Linked DNA regions of Homo sapiens. The protein of the gene in region 1 purifies or fractionates together with the protein of each later gene. This does not show direct contact. Each region holds a gene or a part of one and is shown in the gene's direction. Other genes may lie near its edges. The genes, in order: ACBD7, ACOX1, OGDHL and PAG1.

Region 1 (3,846 bases):
TGCATGTCTCCTTCTTTTGCCAGCGTGTCCAGGAATGCTAGATTTAAAAGGCAAAGCCAAATGGGAAGCATGGAACCTCAAAAAAGGTTTTTTAGTCTTTCACAAGTTTAAAGCAAACTTTCTTAATTTCCCAGTGCACCAATCAGGGAGATAACCTGTTTGTATCTTTCTAGGGTTGTCGACGGAAGATGCGACGAGTGCCTATATTTCTAAAGCAAAGGAGCTGATAGAAAAATACGGAATTTAGAATACAGCATATGAGGAATTTTTCCTTTTGAAGACTTCCAAATGCTATCATGACCTAACATTTAGAGGGAGAGGCATACTGTTAACTTGATGTATCATGTATATTTTTGCTATTAGCATGAGCTGTAGTACTTAGAAGTATACTGAAACTACATAGTTAACTCAATTGTACTTGCTTAAACCAGGTGTCTTTAAAAGTTCTTTTTAAGAAAATGTGGCACATATACACCATGGAATACTATGGAGCCATAAAAAGGGATGAGTTCATGTCCTTTGCAGGGACATGGATGAAGCTGGAAACCATCATTCTCAGCAAACTATCACAAGATCAGAAAACCAAGCATGTTCTCACTCATAAGTGGGAGTTGAACAATGAGAACACATGGACACAGGGAAGGGAACATCACACACTGGGGCCTGTCGGGGACTAGGGGGTTAGGGGAGGGATAACATTAGGAGACATACCTGATGTAGGTGACCGGTTGATGGGTACAGCAAACCACCATGGCACATGTATACCTATGTAACAAAACTGCACGTTCTGCATATGTATCCCAGAACTTAAAGTATAAAAAAAAAAATTCTTTTAGAAAAGTATTTTTTATTTTTATAGAGTTAGGGAGTACAGTTGCAGTTTTTGTTTGTTTGTTTGTTTTTTCTTGAGGAGTCTCACTCTGTCACCCAGGCTGGAGTGCAGTCGTGTGATCTCGGTTCACTGCAACCTCCGCCTCCTGGGTTCAAGTGATTCTCTTGCCTCAGCCTCCCGAGTAGCTGGGATTACAGGTGCTTGCCACCATGGCTGGCTAATTTTTGTATTTTTAGTAGAGACGGGGTTTTGCCATGTTGGCCAGGCTGGTCTCGAACTCCTGACCTCAGGTGATCTGCCCACCTTGGCGCTGGGGTTGCAGGTGTGAGCCACCACACCTGGTCACAGGTGCAGTTTTGTTACATGGATATATTGTGTAGTGGGGAAATCTGGGCTTTTAGTGTAACCATCACCAAAATACTGTACATTGTACCCAAAAGGTAATTGCTCATCCCTCACCCCCTCCCACCTTTCCAAGCCTCCAGTGTCTATTATTCCACACTCCATGACCCTGTATACACCCTGTTTAACTCCCACTTATAAGTGAAAACATGTGGTATTTTTTTTTGTTTCTGAGGGTTCTTTAAAAATCTTTATTTTCTTATTTTTTTCTGAGTTGTTTCACTTAAGATAATAGCCTCCAGTTCCACCCACGTTGCTGCAAAAGCCGTAATTTCATTCTCTTTATATGGCTGAGTAATATCCCCTGGTATACATATACAACGTTTTCTTTATCCCATCATCTGCTGATGGATACTTAGGTTGATTCCATATCTTTGCTCTTGTGAATTGTGCTGCAATAGATATACAAGTGCAGGTATCTTTTGGATAGAATGATTTATTTTCCTTTAAGAAGATACCCAGTAGTGGGATTGCTGGGTAGAATGGTAGTTCTATTTTTAGTTCCATGAGAAATTTCCGTGCTGTTTTTCATAGAGGTTGTACTAATTTACATTCCCACCAATAGTGTATAAGCATTCCCTTTTCTCCACATCTGTTGTTTTTTGACTTTTTAGAAAGTCTAGCCCTGGTAATATGTGTACAGATTTGAACAGCTGTTTGTTCTTTTGGCTCATCTGTTCTGTTACAATAAGTTAATGTTACTGGTGAAATAAAAACAGGTTATTAAGAATCAATGGCAAGGCTGAGCGTGGTGGCTCACGCCTCTAATCTCAGCACTTTGGGAGGCCGAGGTAGGTGGATTACTGAGGTCAGAAGTTCGAGACCAGCCTGACCAACATTGCAAAACCCCATCTCTACTAAAAATACAAAAATTAGCCAGCCATTGGTGGTGCACACCTGTAATTCCAGCTACTTGGGAGGCTGAGGCAGGAGAATTGCTTTTACCCAGGAGATGGAGGTTGCAGTGAGCCAAGATCACACCACTGCACTCCAGCCTGGGCGACAAAACAAGACTCCGTCTCAAAAAAAAAAAAAAAAATTACAAGTCTGTCCATAGCAGTTTAAAGAAATTTAAAAAGCCCCCATAGGAATATCTATTTTTCTTTAAATTTTTACATTTAAGACATTTAAGACAAAAAGGCAAACTAAAATGTATCTAGTGATAAACTGTACCACTACTGTACCCCATATGTTCAGTTCTATCTGAGTAAAAATAGAGTCTGGAATATAATATTGGCCCCCTACTCAGTCTTTCTGGATGGTACACAGGCTCTTTGAAAGAAGACAGTCTCATGTTAACAATTCAAAAAATTGTTTGAGATCCCTTAAGATAAATATCCCCCAAAACAGTGTACCTCTATTCCCTGCATAAAAATTTAGATTTGGAATGGTATGACCAGAGGAATAGATCCACTTCATGTTACTACAACAACAAAACTATCTAGGTCTGCTAGATGAATTTCCAGGGAATTATGCTGAGCAGAAAAAGCCAGTCCCCAAATGTGACATGTATAATTCCATTTATATAACATTCTTTTTCTTTTCTTTTTTTTTTTTTTTTTTTTTGTTGAGACAGGCTGTCACTCTGTTACCCAGGCTGGAGCGCAGTGGCACGCTCTCGGCTCACTGCAACCTCTGCCTCCCAGGGTCAAGCAATCCTCCCATCTCAGCCTCCAGAGTAGCTGGGACTACAGGTGCGTGCAACCATGCCCAGCTAATTTTTGTATTTTTCATAGAGACAGGGTTTCACCATGTTGCCCAGGCTGGTCTGGAACTCCTGATCTGAGGTGATCTACCCACCTTGGCCCCCCAAAGTGCTGAGACTATAGGCATGAGCCACCGCGTCCAGCCAGGATTCTTGAAAGGGAACATTTATAGACGCAAAGGATGGAATAGTGGTTGCCAGGGAGGAGGGAGGTGGGTGTGGCTTTAAAAGGGCAGCAGGAGGGATGATCCTGCAGTGATGGAATGTTCTGTCTTGATTGTAGCAACACCAATATGCTGATTGTGATATTATACTATAGTTTTGCATAACAGTTACCATTAAAGGAAATTGGGTAAAAGGCTACACAAATCTCTCTGTATTATTTCTTACAAATAAAAGGGAATCTGCAGTTACCTCAAAAAGTTTACTTTTAAAAATCGAGGTTGATTTCTCATCGGGAAAATTTTGGCAATCAAGATAATTCTCATCTTTCTAAATTTCGCCTAATGATAGACGTCTTCCACGATGATACCAAGGCCTAATTCCTTCAAAGAGAAGACATCATCAATGATAGACTTGGTGTCTTACAGTTGAGGGCTTGAAAACTCCTGAAAGTTGTTCCCATGTGGACTTTACCTCCACCAGGTAGAGATGCAGGGGAAAAAGCTTACCCCCAAAGCCTGGCATTTGTTCCATCATGAAACTTCAGTTTGCAGACTATACTGACTAAACATTTTTCAAATTAATAATCACGAATCCTAATTATTATTATTATTTTTGAGACAGAGTCTCATTCTGTCGCCAAGACTGGAGTGCAGTGGCATGGTCTTGGCTCACTGCAACCTCCACCTCCCGGGTTCAAGTGATTCTCTTGCCTCAGCTTCCCTAGTAGCTGGGATTACAGGCG
Region 2 (7,044 bases), on another chromosome or scaffold:
AGCACTGTCAGTTTTTGTATTAAAGTGTTTCAGTAGAGCGTGGCCGAATATTTGACATGATGAATCTGAATGAAATGATCAGAGCTATGTGAGGAATATGGTTCTACGCTGGATGTTTTGTGGACAAAACAGAAAAAAAATCCCAGCCTAGAAGCATTATTGAAATTGCATCGAGGAAAAACTATAATCTGGGGGTCATACTGTCACTCTGAGAGAACTACTATGTTCTGTCTCGCTTTCTCATCAGAGGAAATCCTTGTACCAGTACCACTCAAATTCTCTGTTCTCCGACTCCTGGCTTCAAGCGATTCTGCCTCAGCATCCCAAGTAGCTGGGATTACAGGCACATGCCACCACACCCAGCAAATTCTCCATTCTATACAACTTTTTTTTTTTTTTTTTTTTTTTGAGACAGAGTCTCGCTCTGTTGCCCAGGCTGGAGTGCAGTGGTGTGATCTCGGCTCACTGCAACCACCGCCTCCCAGGTTCTCCTGCCTCAGTCTCCCAAGTAGCTTGGATTACAGGCATGTGCCACCACACCTGGCTGATTTTGTATATTTAGTAGAGATGGGGTCTCACCATGTTGGTCAGGCTGGTCTTGAACTCCTGACCTCAGGTGATCCGCCCACCTTGGCCTCTCAAAGTGCTGGGATTACAGGCATGAGCCACGGTGCCCGGCCTTTTTTTTTTTTTTTTTTTTTTGTATTTTTAGTAGAAACGGGATTTCACTATGTTGGCCAGGCTGGTCTCAAACTCCTGACCTCAAGTGATCCGCCTGCGTCAGCCTCCCAAAGTGCTAGGATTACAGGCATGAGCCACCATGCCTGGCCCTATACAACTTTTCAAATTCTCTCTCTCTTTTTTTTTTTTTTTTTGAGATGGAGTCTCACTGTGTCGCCCAGGCTAGAATGCAGTGGTGTTATCTTAGCTCACTGCAACCTCTGCCTCCTGGGTTGGAGCAATTCTCCTGCCTCAGCCTCCTGAGTAGCTGGGATTACAGGTGTGCACCACCATGCCTGCTTAATTTTTGTATTTTTAGTAGAGACAGGGTTTCGCCATGTTGGCCAGGCTGGTCTTGAACTCCTGACCTCAGGTGATCCACCCACCTCGGCCTCTCAGAGTGCTGAGATTATAGGTGGGAGCCACTGCACCTGGCCAATTCTCTCTTATTTATTTATTTATTTTTTTTGAGACAGAGTCTCACTCTGTCACCCAGGCTGGAATGCAGTGGGCATGATCTCGGCTCACTGCAACCTCCGCCTCCTAGGTTCAAGCGATTTTCCTGCCTCAGGCTCCCAAATAGCTGGGACTACTGGCTGGCGCCACCACGTTCAGCTGATTTTTGTATTTTTAGTAGAGTCAGGGCTTTGCCATGTTGGCCAGGCTGGTCTCGAACTCCTGACTTAAGGTGATCTGACCGCCTTGGCCTCCCAAAGTGCTGAGATTGTAGGCATGATCCACTGCACTGGCCTCTCAAATTTTCTTTATTTCCTTTGATTTAATTCCTGGGCGAGGATCCTCTGCCTTGCACGTGTGGTTTTGTGCTGCATTGGCTTTGGAATCAGTAACCAATCCCTGTCCTCGTACTCCTTGCCGACTCAGGAAAAATGGAAATTAACAAGAGCTATAAAGTAATACAGAAAGGGACAGTGCTCCCATCTATGATTAAGTGCACGCAACTAATTCATACTTAAGGTTTTTTTGTCTCCTTCCCTTGCTCTATTTAAATTGCTGATTCTCTCACACCTGATGACTCTTCTCTCAAATGCCCATCCTTGATATTTCCTCGAAGTTTTGTGCACCGAGGGCGGCCTGAGCCTCTGGATCTTCACTTGGGCATGTTCCTGCCCACCTTGCTTCACCAGGCAACTGCGGAGCAGCAGGAGCGCTTCTTCATGCCCGCCTGGAACTTGGAGATCATTGGCACTTATGCCCAGACAGAGATGGGTCATGGTATGGAGTATTCAGTCTACCTTCTGGGTTGGGCGGGCCCCTGTGAGCTTACCATGTGTGGAGTGCCCACCATGTGCCATCGATGGTGTGTCGATGTTCTATGGTCTGTTTAAATGAGCTCTTTCTGCAGAGTCCAGGTTTTGGTATAAACACTGCTTTGGTGAGTGGGAATTAAAGACCATGATACTGATAAAATGATTGTCCTTTTTATACCATAGTTCCCCTTCAGAGGGTCAAGAATTGCAAATCAGGCCTTATTTACCAAGTGGTTTTTCAATGTTACTGAGGTTGTATAGAATCTGTGTGCATATACAACCCGAAGCTGTTTTTTTCTTCATTACTATCTGATTACCTTTACTACTGATACCTTAATGAGTACAAATTCCAGAAGAAATACAAATAATAGTTTGTGTACTCTTGGATTTGCTTGAGGGAAATGAGTAGCTTATAACTGACGTGTGTGACATTTTGGAGTTATTTGTACTTTGAGTCAATCAGTAGTTCTGCAAGTGACTTGGCTGGAGAGTGAAAAAACCAAGATAAGCCGAACTTGCAGGCATTTGGTTTCAGACTCTGTATCTCCACCTTTCATTGATCTTTCCACCCCCCACCTGCTTTCTTCATGCACCTGGGTGGGCTGGAGGTGGCCGCTGTTCCTCTTTGTATCTTCTCTGAATTGGGTCCGTGTTTGCCATTCATTTGCTTATGGCTTCTCTTTTTCTGCTCTGACGTTTCAGAAAAACTGGTCTAGTGTGTATTTGCCACTTGCTCCTTATTTCTATACAGCTGCTGCTTTTTATTTGGTGTTGAATAGTATTTTACAGGATTTTCATGAGACTCCAAGTGGAATACTATTTGTTTCAGTTGTGCTTTTGAAAACATTTTGTCCTTATCTGTTCTGTTTAATGTTATCTGCTTTTCTGTAAAAGCTGCTTCTTTGATGAAAGATGTCTGTGTCTGATTTGTTGACTCCCACTCGGGAAAGTTGTGGATTGCACATAAGTTGGTTATTCAACTTGGAAGCTTCTAAATGTTTCAAAGTGTGTTTAATGAGGTCTAAGCGTTATGAAAGCAGATTGGTAAAAGGTTCCCAACGTTTGCTTTAGTACAGTATTTTTGTAGAGACTGCCACCTAGAACATTTTTCTATGACTCTTTTCAAATAATTTTGATATATTTGTGTTAAGATTTAAAACATAAGATCCTGTCTATCCCAGTACACATAAGAAACTGGAAACTCTTCCTTGCCACATTAATGAACCAGCAGGACTAAGTTAGGCCTGCCATTGGAAATCTCTAGGGTCAACTGAGACCTTATTATTGGACCTTTAGGAATTTTTAAAAGTCACATTTCAGGTCATTTCCCCAATAACAGTTATACTTTTATACTTTTTTTTTTTTTTTTTTTGAGACGGAGTCGTGCTCTGTCGCCCAGGCTGGAGTGCAGTGGCGCGATCTCAGCTCACTGCAAGCTCCACCTTCCGGGTTCACGCCATTCTCCTGCCTCAGCCTCCCGAGTAGCTGGGACTACAGGCACCCACCACCATGCCCAGCTAATTTTTTGTATTTTTAGTAGAGACGGGGTTTCGCCGTGTTAACCAGGATGGTCTCGATCTCCTGACTTTGTGATCCGCCCGCCTTGGCCCCCCAAAGTGCTGGGATTACAGGCGTGAGCCACCGTGCCCAGCTTTAATTTTTTTGTTGTTTTTTTAGTAGAGACGGGGTTTCACCACTTTAGCCAGGATGGTCTCAATCTCCTGACCTCGTGATCCCCCCACCTCGGCCTCCCAAAGTGCTGGGATTACAGGCTTGAGCCACTGTGCCTGGCCTTTTTCTTTTTCTTTTTCTTTTTTTTTTTTTTTTGAGATGGAGTCTTGCTCTGCCACCCAGGCTGGAGTGCGGTGGCACAATCTTGGCTCACTGCAACCTCCACCTCCCGGGTTCAAGCAATTCTCCTGCCTCAGCCTCCTTAGTAGCTGGGACTACAGGCGCATGCCACAATGCCTGGCTAATTTTTTGTATTTTTAGTAGAGACGGGTTTCACCATGTTAGCCAGGATGGACTCGATCTCCTGACCTCGTGATCCACCCGCCTCGGCCTCCTAAAGTGCTGGGATTACAGGCATGAGCCACCACGCACAGCCATACATTTTTAATTTATACGAATTTTGGCTGAAATGTCTTCCTCTCACATGTTATCTCATTCTTCTCATTAGTACAGAATTCAAGAATGTTGAATTGGTGTGGTTAACACAATACATATGACTTGAAATTGGCATACTTGCAACTCAGAGATGGGTTTAAAAAGACAGTTAACATCCCTGTTAAATTCATATATTGTGATCTTAAAAATGTGATTCTAAGTTGCCTTTATATTTTCTTTCAGTTGCTGTAAATAAATGTAACAAATCAAATACAGAAATGGAACATGCATGACACTTAGATTTTCAACTTAATAGGAAACCATCAGATAGTGTGGGAAATTCAGTGTCTTGGTTATCAACCAGTTGTAGCTCATCTACAGGTGTTTTTTGTTAGATTTTGTTTTTCTCTGAGATATGAGAGTTTAAAGGACTGTGCAGGAAATTTTTCCTTGTGCCTATTTTTTTCCCCATCTCTTAACTGAAGTCAATGTAATTTATCTCCTTAGGAACTCACCTTCGAGGCTTGGAAACCACAGCCACGTATGACCCTGAAACCCAGGAGTTCATTCTCAACAGTCCTACTGTGACCTCCATTAAATGGTGGCCTGGTGGGCGTAAGTGAATTTTTCAGCATTTATTGGATGTTTTGAAGGTTTGTCATGAGATTTTGCTTAGAATGTAGAGCTTTTATGATAATGTCGGCCAGACTTGGTGGTGAAATCCTAACACTTTGGGAGGCTGAGGTGGGCAGATCACTTGAGGTCAGGAATTCAAGACCAGCCTGGTTAATATGCTGAAACCCCATCTCTACTAAAAATACAAAAATTAGCCGGGTGTGGTGGCGCACACCTGTAGTCCCAGCTACTTGGGAGGCTGAGGCAGGAGAATCACTTGAACCCGGGAAGGTTGCAATGAGCCAAGATTGCACCATTGCACTCCAGCCTGGGCATCACAGCAAGACTTTGTCTCAAAAACAACCCAACAAACAAATATATGTGTGTGTGGTGTGTGTACATAGAGGGGTGTGTGTGTGTGTATATAGACAGAGAGAGGTGTGTGTGTGTATATATATATATATATATATATATATATATATATATAGAGAGAGAGAGAGAGAGAGAGAGAGAGAGAGAGAGAGAGAGAGAGAGAGAGAGAGAGAGAGGAAAGCCAGGCATAGCGGCACATACCTATAGACCTATAGTCCTGGCTACTCAGGAGGCTGAGGTGGGAGGACCACTTGAGCCCAAGAGTTCAAGCCTGCAGTGAGCTACTATCTGTGATCATGCCACTGCACTCCAGCCTGGGTGACAGAGTGAAACCCTGTCTCTTAAAAAAAAAAAAGAAAAAAATTTAAATAGTTTTAACACAAACTTTTTTTTTTTTTTGAGATGGAGTCTCACTGTGTCACCCAGGTTGGAGTACAGTGGTGTGATCTCCGCTCACTGCAACCTCCACCTTCTGGGTTCAAGCGATTCTCCTGCCTCAGCCTCCTGAGTAGCTGGGACTACAGGAGCGTGCCACCACACCCAACTAATTTTTGTATTTTTAGTAGAGATGGGATTTCATCATGTTGGCCAGGCTGGTCTCAAACTCCTGACCTCTGGTCTGCCCGCCTCGGCCTCCCAAAGTGCTGGAATTACAGGCGCGAGCCACCGTGCCCGGCTGACCCGAAACTTTTATATCTTCTTATTCCATTCTGAGTTATTATCTTGGAATATATATTTCCAATACAGTTAGTGGTTGAAGGATTTTGTTATTCACATTATATATTTTATTTATTTATAATTTATATGTAAGAAGCCACATGTAGCTAGTGATTACTGTTTTGGACAGCACTGCCTTAAGGGATAACAAGGAAGTAGTTTAAATTAATATTCTTATTTTTATCCTAAAATTTTCTCTACGTAAATGTATGAGAAATAAGTAGAAAAGAAAGTAATAACTATTAGCTTAAGGGAATTTCTTTCTGAAAGCTAGGTGTGATGCTGTCAGCAGAAAGGCTTTCTGGACACATACTATTGGTTTAGTCTAGTGTTAGATTTAACATATTCTTTCTTCTTTTTTCTACCCTTTAAAAATGTATGAACGTTTGCCCACCCCTCCCTTGTTCTCTTTGATATTACAGTTGGAAAGACTTCAAATCATGCAATAGTTCTTGCCCAGCTCATCACTAAGGGGAAATGCTATGGATTACATGCCTTTATCGTACCTATTCGTGAAATCGGGACCCATAAGCCTTTGCCAGGTAAGAACTGTTCATCTGATGTTGAGATGAAAATGAAACTGAGCACTTTCTTCTGCAAAAGGTAGAATGCCCAACTGAAGAGGCGGAGCAAAAGCCAGAAATTCCAGAGCATAAACATCTCGTGACTGTCCTTTCATCTGTGGTAGGAATTACCGTTGGTGACATCGGCCCCAAATTTGGTTATGATGAGATAGACAATGGCTACCTCAAAATGGACAACCATCGTATTCCCAGAGAAAACATGCTGATGAAGTATGCCCAGGTATGTTTTGATAGAAAATAAAGCAGAGGCATCAAACAGTGGAGTTGAGTGGCTGTTACTCACAATAGGGTTAGAATGGTCTGTTCTTTTAGAAGGTAATAACAGCAGGGCACACTGGCATATTCCTGTTATCCCAGCACTTTGGGAGGCTGAGTGCGTGGATGACTTGAGCCCAGGAGCTCAAGATCAGTCTGGGCAACATAGTGAGAACCCATCTCTACAAAAAGTAAAAAAATCTAGCTGGGTATGGTGGCACACGTGTGTAGTCCCAGCTACTTGGGAGACTGGGGTGGGAGGATCACTTGAGCCTGGGAGGCCGAGGCTACAGTGAGCTGTGATTATGCCACCGTACTCCAGCCTAGATGACAGTGAGACCTTGTCTCAAAAAAAAAAAGGAGGCTGGGCGCAGTGGCTCACACCTGTAATTCCAGCACTTTTGGGA
Region 3 (4,227 bases), about 35 Mb from region 1:
CTGAGAAGCCCTCCAGACTTTCCCCTGAGCCTGGGGTCCCTGCAGGGCCAGATGTCTTTCCCATGGTGGGGTCCAGCCTTGGCTGTCTGGCGTTTGCTTTCAGGGCCCAGAGCACTCGTCAGCGAGGCCCGAAAGGTTCCTGCAGATGAGCAATGATGACTCGGATGCCTACCCTGTGAGTGTTGCTGCTGTCCCCAGGACAGGGACGCGCCCTATTGTGCCCACAGGGCTAGGGGTCCAGGGTGTGGGTGCAGCAGACAGCCACCCTGGCCATATGCATCTCGTCCCCACAGGCATTCACCAAGGACTTCGAGGTGAGCCAGCTCTATGACTGCAACTGGATCGTGGTCAACTGCTCCACACCGGCCAACTACTTCCACGTGCTGCGCCGGCAGATCCTGCTGCCCTTCCGCAAGCCGGTGAGTCTCCGTCCCAGGGCAGGGGTCACAGGCAGGGGGCCTGGCCAGGCAGGGCCAGCTGGCAGCTGGGCGTGTATTTCCCTTCCAGCTGATTATCTTCACACCTAAATCTCTGCTGAGGCACCCAGAGGCCAAGTCCAGCTTTGACCAAATGGTATCCGGTACGTGCCTGGCCTGGGTGTGTGGGGTAGCCCACAATGGGGCGGTGGCCCATTGTGTGGCTTCTGCTTCTGGGGCTTCTCCAACCTCCCCTCTGCCTGTGGCTCTGCTGACCTGCAGCAGCTCCTGGCATGGTCCCACTAGCAGTAGGGTTGGGAGGTTGGCACAATGGCTGACCTGGGCCAGCTCAGGTCATGTGGGTTGCGTCCATGGTAGAGTCCACTGGGGCCCCCTTAGACCCTAGCAGGGCTGGTCGAGGCCTGGCAGAGGCCTGCTGAGTTCGCAAGATATTGAGTATCATTCATTCATTTGTCCATTTTAAAAATTCATGAGCCAAACAGACATTACAGGCCCTGGGGTCCTGGTGTCCCCTCCAGGAGTCTTTGGCCTTATTTCCCTGGGAGTCAGATCAGATAAAACACTATAGTTGCAACTGAGAGGTGACTATGTCCAGGGAAGGACAGGTGTGAGGCTGGTGGAGCAGAGCTGTCTTGGAAAATGGTCCTGGGCAGTAGAGGGAGGGCTGGGAAGGGCCTCAGCATGGACAGGGGTTGGATTTTCTCCCATGTGTGTTTGGATGTCCCCTCTGTGCAGGTGGGCAGCTGTTAGAGCTCTGATGTCGGGACTGGACTACCTGGGCTACCTGCCCTGTGCTGGCTTCTCTCTTGAGGGCCTGGGATCCATTTGTCCTCTCTACCCCAGAGTCTTCACCTGAGATGCAGGGATGTGAGGACACTACAGTAGCTTCCTGAGAGGTTTTGCAGTGTGCGTGACCTGGGGTCAGGATCATGGGCTCAGGAAGGAAGAATGGTTGGGGCTTGGAGGTGAAGCTCAGCTGCCAGGCTGAAAGAGGAGGAGCATGCAGCAGCCTCCTGGGACATCTGCTTAGTGGTGGGGGACTGCAGTGCTCTGCAGGAGGTGGGCGCAGCTGGGCAGAAGCAAGGTTGGGGCAAAGGATGATGCCATCATGTTGCCTTCTCTGTCTCCTTCAGGGCGCTTCTTATTGTACCCCCACCTCCGGTCACCTTAAACGTGATGCTTCCAGGGCTCAACCCTTGGGTGTCTCCACCCCTCTCCCTATGACAGCTCAGGGTGTCATCTGCCCCCTGCTCCATCTTTTAGTTCAAGAGGTGTCCACTGCAGCCACAAGTCCAAACCTGCAGTTAGTGTCAGTGGCTAAGGAGAGCCTGGGGATGCAGGCCTGGTCCTGAGCTGCCCCAGCCCCTCTGGGTACCAACGCCTCTGCCATGTCCTGTTGGTCCCTCAGGGACCAGCTTCCAGCGGGTGATTCCTGAAGATGGGGCCGCAGCACGGGCCCCTGAGCAGGTGCAGCGGCTCATCTTCTGCACGGGAAAGGTGTACTATGACCTGGTGAAGGAGCGGAGCAGCCAGGACCTGGAGGAGAAAGTGGCCATCACGCGCCTGGAGCAGGTGTGCCTGAACCCCTTGTACAGTCAAGTGATGGGCAAGCTCACGTCGCTGGCCCCGGCTCTGGCCAATGTGCCAGGCAGGCCAGATGAAGGCCGGTGAGGCCCTGTGCCTCCTGTCCGGGGGTGCTGGGGACATACCGCCCCTCCTCTGGCTATGCTCCTTTGTTTCTGCCTCCCCAGATCTCTCCATTCCCCTTCGACCTGATCAAGCAGGAGGCAGAGAAGTACCCAGGTGCGGAGCTGGCCTGGTGTCAGGAGGAGCACAAGAACATGGGCTACTATGACTACATCAGCCCACGCTTCATGACCATCCTGAGGCGCGCACGGCCCATATGGTACATGGTGGGGCCGCTGATTGCCCCTCACCTCGGCCCTGAGGCTCTGTCCTGGCTCCATCTGTCCCATAGGCCATGCTACCCAGAACTGGCCCTGCCCTTCTCTGGTGATGAGCAATGATGGGGCATCATCAGTACTGGCTTTGTGTTTGTTCTGCAGCCAGAACTGTATTAAGGAACCTGCTACATGTCTCAAAACTCCTGCCTTAGATCTTAGGCCGGTTATGTAGTCCTTGGAGCCTTAGTCCCTGCATCTCTACAAAGGGCGGTGATAAGATTAGATCTGATGTATGTATTAGCTCTGGCACATGGTGCGTTCCCAATACTGGCATCATGTGTTCCTGGGAAGATGGGAGAGGGTCCTGAGAAACTCCAAGAAGCCAAAAGTATGTTTGTCCCCAAAGTCTTTGAGTTGTTGCCTCATTTGTTGTCCTCATGGGCAAGTGCAGTGACATGGAGGGACAGTTTCTCCCCACTCTTCTGTGGCTAGGTGACTGAGTTTGATCCGGGCTTTGCAGCTCATTGGAAGTGGTGCCAGGGCCAAAAGGCAGGGTCTATGGCTTCGAGGTCAGCGGTTCTCAGATGCGTGCCCCCTGCAGTCCCGGAGTGAGGGCAGCGGTTGGGGGGCGGCTAGGCCCCGCCTTCCCCTTAGCTTGTCTCTCCTCCTCCAGGTATGTTGGCCGGGACCCAGCGGCTGCACCAGCCACAGGAAACAGGAACACTCACCTGGTGTCACTGAAGAAGTTTCTGGATACTGCCTTCAATCTCCAGGCCTTTGAGGGCAAGACATTTTAGAGCTGGGCAAAACCTGTGTAGGTCTCGCTGTGGGTTTGCTGGGGACCAAGGGGGTGATGAAAAGGGGAGGGGCGGAGCTCCTGCCCAGGAGAGGGGCTGTGGGGCCCCAGGATAAAACAGACACAGTGACAGGGCCAAGAGCCAGCACTGCTGGCCTTGGTGTCATGCCAGAATCTACCAGGACTGAGGGAGCCAGAGGAGTCCTATAGGCAGGCTACTGTGCTGGAGCATCCCCCAGCTGCTCCCATCTTGCTGGAATTTCTTGGGCGGCTTCTCCACCTGTATCTCAAGACAGACACCCGGGGGCCTGTGTCTGTGGCCGCTCCCATCCCGGCAGCCCTGGCTGCTGCTCGCCCCACCCTCGCTTATCTGTAGATTCAAAGCGATGTTCTCTTCTGTGCTCTTAGAAGTAGGGAGTTCAGCAGTAACAGCCAGGTGAAGCGAACCTGCTGGGTGATTTGTTTGCGCTCTGTTTTATGGGGCATTCCTGCGAGATGTGTCAGCTTCTGTGTGAAATGCAGCCACAGCTCATGTGTACCAAAGTAGAAAACCAAATCACAGAGAAATAAAAACATGCTTCAGAGAGATTTGCTGTTTTCATTTCATGTTGTAAAACTGGGGGAGGGATAGGCAGTTGAGAGAAGGTAGGGAATGGGGAGAAAGTTAAAAAAATGGAGAGAAGAAAATATCTGCCTCCATGGATATTTTTTTGAGACGGAGTTTGGCTCTTGTCACCCAGGCTGGAGTGGAGTGGTGCGATCTTGGCTCACTGCAACCTCCGCCTCCCAGATTCAAGTGATTCTCTTGCCTCAGCCTCCTGAGTAGCTGGGATTACAGGCATGCGCCACTATGCCCGGCTAATTTTTTTGTATTATTAATAGACGGGGTTTCACCATGTTGGCCAGGCTGGTCTCAAACTCCTGACCTCAAGTGATCCGCCTGCCTTGGCCTCCCAAAGTGCTGGGATGACAGGTGTGAGCCACTACGCCAGATTTTCATTTGAGCACCAGGTAGTGTCTGTTGGCTTCTCCACTCTGGCCTTTTGTGGGTTTTGCTTCCCTGTGGAGATACTGGAGAAGCTGCCACAGA
Region 4 (7,044 bases), on another chromosome or scaffold:
GAGAACCAGAGCTCGATCCTGGATGGCCTTGGCTTATAGTCTGAACACTAATAATGTCACTAGAGTCCCGAGCAGCAGAATGGCACAACCTAGCCTATGTTTTCAAAGGATCCCTCTGACTCCAGTTTTGAAATAAAGGGTAGAAGTGAGGAGAACAATTGGGTAGTGACTCTAATAAACCAGATTAGAAATGGCGGTGGCCTGGATCAGGGAAGAGGCAGCAGAGGTGATGAGAAAAGCTAAGCCAGAGCCAAGAGATTTGCGGATGGATCCTACGCTTAGTGAGATAAAGAAGAGGCAGTGATGAGTACGAGGCTGGGCCCAACATGTGGGAAAGATTGAATTGCCATTAACTGAAATGAAGAGGATACAGGCAGAGCAGGTTTTGGGGGGAGAACCAGCAGTCAGTGTTGGGTACGTTCAACTTGAGATACCGATTGGACTTCCAAGTAGAGCTTATCAGATGGTAGCTGGATTGATGAGCCGGGTAAAGAGGAAAGGCCAGGGCTGGATTTGCTGATGTGGGAGTCATCCACAGAATGTGGTTTTAAAAGTCATGAGATTGGGTGAGGTCACAGGATAGGTGAGTGTAAATAGAGCCTGGAAGAGCTCCAAGAATAGAGATCTGGAAAAGGAACCAGCAGAAGAGACCAAAGTAGGAAACAAAAACAGGAAAGTTGTGGAGTCCTGGAAGGCAGTGAAGAACGTGTCCAGGAAGGAAGGAGTGGCGGGCCGCTCTGCCAAATGCAGCGGGTAGGTCAGGGAAGGCGAGTCTCATTGGTGCCCTTGACAAGAGCAGTCTCTGTGGAATGGTAGAGGCAGAAACATGACTGAAATGGATTAGAAAGAGAATAGGAAGAGAAAAATTGTTCGGTTGACTTTTTAGACCACTCTTTAAAAGATTTTGCTATAAAGAAGTGAGACAGGCTGGGCGCAGTGACTCATGCCTGTAATCGTAACACTTTGGGAGGCCGAGGTGGGTGGATCACTTGAAACCAGGTGTTTGAAACCAGCCTGGGCAATGTAGCAGCACCCCGTCTCTACAAAAAATACAAAAATTAACTGGGCATGGTGGTATGCACCTGTAGTCCCAGCTACTTGGGAGGCTGAGGTGGGACAATGGCTTGAGCCTGGGAGGTCAAGGCTGCAGTGAGCCAAGATCACGCCACTGCATCCCAGCCTGAATGGCAGAGTGAGACGCTGTCAAAAAAAAAAAAAAAAAAAAAAAGGAAGTGAGATAATGAGTAGGTAGAATTTCGGAGTAGGACTAGGTTTGTTTTGGTTTTAGAATGAGAGAAACAACAGCATGTTTGCATGTGGCTGGGAATGATCCCACACTGGGAGAATTCCTGGCTCAGTATTCACACATAGGTATGTGGAGACAGGGTCTAGTGTGTAGGAAGGAGGGGATCACCTGAAGGAGGAACATGGAAAATCCATTTGACAGGGAGGAAAGAAAATAGATTAACGCAGAGGCTGAGGGTGGGGCTAAGAGTTGATACAAATTTCTTCTGATTCCTTCAGTTTTCTTAGCCAACTAGGAAGCAAGATCATCTGCTCAGAGTGAAGATAGGTGAGGAGGTGTTGGAAGTCTGGGGAGAAGAGGAGAAGATGCAAAGTAGACTGTGAGTTGAGCAGAGACTGAGTATACTGGGGAAGCATCGGATGATACGGAGCGGCTTTAAGGGCTCACTAGAGGGTTGAGTTCACGTATGATTGGCAGTTGACTATGGAGCTTAAGCTTAGTAAAGCAGTACAGGACACCAAGGAGAAGGGCAGACTTTGAAAGCATGAATGGGTCCCAATGGTGTTGAAGGAGCATTGGAACTGGGTTACAGAAGGAGTGAGCTTTGACAACGAGCGCTGGTCTGAAAGGGGTTGCAAGGACTTGGGCTGGTGGAGAGGCTGTGGTTTAGAAAGGCCTGGGGTGCAGCCATGAGGGTGCTGAGGCCGGGGGTGGACATGGAGAGGGGACACAGATAGAGCATAAAATCAGTGGGGGAAGGGAAAGTCAAGGAACTGAAGGGCGGGATTTAGAAGGGTACACGTTTGTTGAGGTCACCAAAAATTAAGACAAGGGATGTGTTAGAGAATCAGTAAACCAAGAGCCAAAATCCTTCAGAAATCAGGCAGGGGGCAAGACACAAAATGTGAGTCAGTTTCTCCATTAGCTTTGAAGTTTCCAAATGACTTAAGGATCTTTCTGATGACGCCAGCAAACTGTAGAAGTATAAAATTCAGGCATTTGATAAAGAAACACCATGTTTTTAAATATTAATCCTCCATGGATGATCAATCCTTCAGTGACAATTAGGAATTGAAACAGTAGTCTAAATAATTATTTTGGCTTCTTTGTACCTACAGATGCAAATACAAAATTAGAGGAAATTTCTCTAAGGATAATACTACTAGATATCCCCGAACATCATACATGTGGTAATAGATTGCATAAGTGTTTCTCTTCCCATAATTTCTTCGTGGTTCCATAAAAATCATTTGAAAACGTTGCTAGACAGATTATGAGGAAACATGTGCAAAAGAAAGGTTAGATTGTTAACGCTGAATTACTTTCCTTGGCTTGTGTTTGTTCTGACAGAGATTTAGCTCATTGTCATACAAGTCTCGGGAAGAAGACCCCACTCTCACAGAAGAAGAGGTAAGTTTTGTTTCTTTTTAAAAAGGGAAAACTGTAGTAAAGAATAGACCTTCCCCCCTTGAATAAATGCACTGTAATGTTACCCTTTGAAAGAGCTGAAATATTCTCCTATGCCTATGTTTGGAGATGAAGACTTGGGATGCTGGTTTTATAATGGCTTGGAGAGACTGACGGGCAGGCCAGACAAGAAGGATGGCAGGACAAGTAGTCAGCTCAGGAAAAGAAACTGAGCAGGAAAGCAGGGTCAGGAAAAATAGAGAGGGCAGGGGAGAAGAGTGAGAAGAGAAAAATTCCAGCGTGGGAGCAGTCAGCAGTCAGGAAGACCACATCAGAAGGAAATGAATCATGGGTTGGAAAATTCAGGAAATTAGAACAGGTGAGTGTAGGGAATTTGCTCCAGCCTGGGAGACAGAAAGAGGAAGTCTCCGTGGGGAAATTTGGATGCTGAGAGCAGATTAACTTCAGTAAGTACAGTTCCAGGCAGGAGCTAGGGTCAGACATAGCAGCCAACAAGAGCAGATCGCATATTCCCAAGCACCAGGGTGCAAAATTCACGAGTTAGATTTTCAATGAAGCATTAAAATTGTTAAAGCCAGTATTATACATATAATATGAAATATGTGTATATATACATATTTCATATGTATATATATAAATGTTGAGCTATGCTCAGAGAGCTAAACACCTTAATTGATCTAGCTGTATATAGCTTCTATCTGGAATTCCTAGCAGAGTAAATTGTGTACATGTACAAGAGCAAAGTACATATGCAGGTACATCACTTCCTATAGGACTCTGAGTAAAGCATTAGAATATGGACATAGACACCCACGTTGAATGTTCAAAGAGCAAAAATGCTTTCCCTAGGTGATATTGCCCACCCTCGTCCATGTTTCTACCTCCAGAATGGACCTGCCATCTGTCTATCTGGTTGCACAGACCAAAACCTAGGGGTCATCTCGATACTTCCTTTTCCTCACTGTCCTCCAACACAGTCAATTGCCAAGACCCATCAGTTGCACCTCCAAACTGTTTTCTTTGTGTACCCACCTCCCTCAAGCCCACTGCGGCCGCCCCTCCCTAGGCCAGAGCAGTCCCCTCCTGCTGATCCCTGGCAGCTCCTTGGCCTCCCTCCACTCTGTTTTCTACTCTGCAGCCAAAGTGATCCCATCTGGGACAAGAAGGTAAAATATATAGGAGTTCTGGGAATTAAAGACTATGTAAAATTTTAAATTGCTCCTTATCTTACATTTGTTTGTATTTTTTGAAACAGGACCTAGTTATACTGATGAATTTTTAACATGACAGAACTATGACTCACAGACATTCATTTTAGGACAAAGAGGAAAAATAAATATGAAAGTTTTTTTTGTATTTATGTAATTTAATGTTAAACAGTCCAGACTGAAGCTGAGATCTGAGCTTTAAGTTCTATTACCCCAATTTAACAGAATGTTATGGAAAGGATTGATTAGAAAAAGAAGAGAAATGGGGAAAAGGAAGAGAGTAACTTATGGGAATATAGCAACAATTTACAGACTGAGGAATAATGATGAAAGTTTTAAAGAGAAAAATTGAGAAGCTAAATAGCAAGGGGGCTGGAAGAGAAACCTGTATACAAAATAAAAATAATAGTCATAATGGTCATAGAAAACAGTCAAAAGGAATATGAGAAGACTCAAGAAGCTTTTATAAAAGTTGAAATGTACAGTGAGACCCTCTGCACACTAGGTTCATTCCCAGAGTCAATATTAAATTGCAAGTTAATGAATGAGGACAAAGGCCAAGAAGACCAAGTACTCTTACAAAGAGTGAGGGGCATTAATTACAAAGACCAGGGGGAAGAAAGCTGAGGAGAGAAGCTAACGGTGGTGAGGGGCTGACTCTCATTGTTACAATCTAGGTCAAGGTACATTTGTCCTCCTTGATGTTACCAGGTGATGAATACGCTGGTATGCCGTCTCCCCTCACCATTGTCATCCATTGTTTACCTTTTTATAATCTGTCCACATATAATTTTTGGCTTGGACCACCATTTAGATAATACATTCTGTGTTTGCACTTCCTTATAAACAGCAGTGAATTTTTTTTATTAAATTCAAAGAAATTATAATTCTTGTATTCTGAGAGCAGTTTTTTCATTAAAACCTCTAAGGTGAGAATGTTAATCATTTCATATTCATTAGGATAGTCAGATCAACATAGTAAGAGTTTTCCAAAGACTGTTTTTCTGAACTGTAAACCCTTGGATTGTCAAGGCCTCACCAAACTGAGCCAGCCACCAGCCTGTAATGAAAAGTTCTCATGCAAATGACCAGTTAGCATGTGGCAGGCCTGTCTTAAGAAGCTTTTGAGACATAAGAAGGCCTGTCTTAAGACAGGCCTGTCTTAAGAAGCTGGAAACTTCACCTGCAGTATGTGAGAAAAGTGGAAGCAGGAAAATGTCCCTCAGCCCTTGGGAAGCCAGGCATCTGTGAGGAAGCATGTTCATGTATTTCCTGGGTATTTGAATGAATCAAATCACTGTGATAAAAATAAACACAGGTAATGAAGGGTATTTTTACTTATTTCCAACCGTGATTTTTCACAATAAAATAATACTCCCCAAAAGTCTCCTAATTAGTATATTTAATCTTCACAATGAATGAAATCCCTGTTGATATCGGAGGTGATACAGGATTTATTAGTGAGACTGTGGGGGTGTGCTTGGAAAGCCACTGGCTCTTAATAGTATCCTGTAAGTTGTCATTTCTGACTTGGCTGGTTGCAAGCGAGAATGAGTTTTCCCACTGAAGAAAACTAGACCTGGACTGTCAATGTCTGTTTAACCAGTAATACGCAACTAAGTCAAGAAATAATGGACAGGAATACCCTTTCAGATATATGTGTACCACCAACGAGAATCCAGCAACGGGTGTTGGAGACCACTGTGATGCAGGAAGCATGGAGTAGTCTAATTCAGAGTTCTTATACTTTACTGGCCATCAGAATCAGCACCGGTTGCTGGGCCCCAGCCCCGAGGTTCTGATTTGGTGGTTCTGGGATGAGGCCTGAGAACTTGCCTTTCTGACAAATTCCCAGATCCTGTTGCTGCTGGTTTACAGCCCACACTTTGAGAATCACCGGTCTACTATGTGTTTTCTGTCCTTTTTTGTAAAGCAGTGGAGCCCCTTTTCAGGCAAAATATCATTCTGATAAAGAAATGAAATAAAACACATGCTGTGGTCAGGTCCCCGGGGCCTTCAGGAGCTTCCCACTCCACCTCTCCTCAAATTCCTCGGCAGACCCAAGAGAACTGGGTTTTCACGGAATTAAGGGAATATGACTGATCTAGTTAACATAGTTGAAGATAGTGTGTGTAATTATTCTCTAGTAATGTGCTCCATAATTAGTACAGATAAGAAAGAACAAATCTTTAAGGAGTACACACACAGAAACCCAGGAGTGCTCAGTATGTAGCTTGTCACTAAAAAGAGGGAGGGGGAAGTCACAGCTGGAAGTTTATTCAACTCTCCCTTTGTCTCCTAGATCTCAGCTATGTACTCATCAGTAAATAAACCTGGACAGTTAGTGAATAAATCGGGGCAGTCGCTTACAGTTCCGGAGTCCACCTACACCTCCATTCAAGGGGACCCACAGAGGTCACCCTCCTCCTGTAATGATCTCTATGCTACTGTTAAAGACTTCGAAAAAACTCCAAACAGCACACTTCCACCAGCAGGGAGGCCCAGCGAGGAGCCAGAGCCTGATTATGAAGCGATACAGACTCTCAACAGAGAGGAAGAAAAGGCCACCCTGGGGACCAATGGCCACCACGGTCTCGTCCCAAAGGAGAACGACTACGAGAGCATAAGTGACTTGCAGCAAGGCAGAGATATTACCAGGCTCTAGCAACCCAGAAGACAACCCTGGGTAGCCTGTGATCAGTGTCTGGAGACGTTTCTTCTGTGGAAGAGAAGAAGTGACACAAACCTATACTTCATATGCTGCTTTAGTCACCTGAAGATGGTTGGAGAGGCCCTGTCGACTGTTCTCCCAGTTGTTCAGTTTCTGAGACAGAGAGGTACGGACTAGGCTGCACCTGAGTGTGCCCCTGCCTGCCAGATGGACAGGTACACCCAAGCACATCTCCCTGCTGCACCCTCACCACCCACAAAAGATCCCAGCTGTCAGTGGTCTCATCTCATTAGTGAGGAAAGCCAAGCTGTATGGAAAAGCTGCACTCACCAAGGACCACAATGCCCCCGGCCTAAAGTACTGCCATTCAGAAAAGCAGGTTTTTCTTCCTCTCTTTCCTTTTCTCTGTCTGCTACTGACTTTAAGGCTTTTTCCCCCTTGAAATGTCCAGATTCCTGTGGTTCATCCCAAGGAAATTTTCACACAAAGCT

Evidence for each region.
Region 2: the proteins of ACBD7 (region 1) and ACOX1 purify together in Homo sapiens (affinity purification with mass spectrometry; 2 studies listed by BioGRID and IntAct, with this or other methods). This does not show direct contact.
Region 3: the proteins of ACBD7 (region 1) and OGDHL purify together in Homo sapiens (affinity purification with mass spectrometry; 2 studies listed by BioGRID and IntAct, with this or other methods). This does not show direct contact.
Region 4: the proteins of ACBD7 (region 1) and PAG1 purify together in Homo sapiens (affinity purification with mass spectrometry; 2 studies listed by BioGRID and IntAct, with this or other methods). This does not show direct contact.

The regions. Positions count from the first base shown.
Region 1 is NC_000010.11:15,074,931-15,078,776, reverse strand, and holds the end of ACBD7 (acyl-CoA-binding domain-containing protein 7), read left to right. Parts: intron 1-23; coding exon 24-86; intron 87-173; coding exon 174-247; 3' UTR 248-3,302; downstream 3,303-3,846. UniProt on the Homo sapiens protein: Binds medium- and long-chain acyl-CoA esters.
Region 2 is NC_000017.11:75,955,124-75,962,167, reverse strand, and holds part of ACOX1 (peroxisomal acyl-coenzyme A oxidase 1), read left to right. Parts: intron 1-1,792; coding exon 1,793-1,953; intron 1,954-4,601; coding exon 4,602-4,709; intron 4,710-6,220; coding exon 6,221-6,340; intron 6,341-6,486; coding exon 6,487-6,602; intron 6,603-7,044. UniProt on the Homo sapiens protein: Involved in the initial and rate-limiting step of peroxisomal beta-oxidation of straight-chain saturated and unsaturated very-long-chain fatty acids.
Region 3 is NC_000010.11:49,734,139-49,738,365, reverse strand, and holds the end of OGDHL (2-oxoglutarate dehydrogenase-like, mitochondrial), read left to right. Parts: intron 1-103; coding exon 104-175; intron 176-293; coding exon 294-419; intron 420-507; coding exon 508-580; intron 581-1,845; coding exon 1,846-2,009; intron 2,010-2,188; coding exon 2,189-2,343; intron 2,344-3,014; coding exon 3,015-3,138; 3' UTR 3,139-3,725; downstream 3,726-4,227.
Region 4 is NC_000008.11:80,976,047-80,983,090, reverse strand, and holds part of PAG1 (phosphoprotein associated with glycosphingolipid-enriched microdomains 1), read left to right. Parts: intron 1-2,596; coding exon 2,597-2,656; intron 2,657-6,184; coding exon 6,185-6,547; 3' UTR 6,548-7,044. UniProt on the Homo sapiens protein: Negatively regulates TCR (T-cell antigen receptor)-mediated signaling in T-cells and FCER1 (high affinity immunoglobulin epsilon receptor)-mediated signaling in mast cells.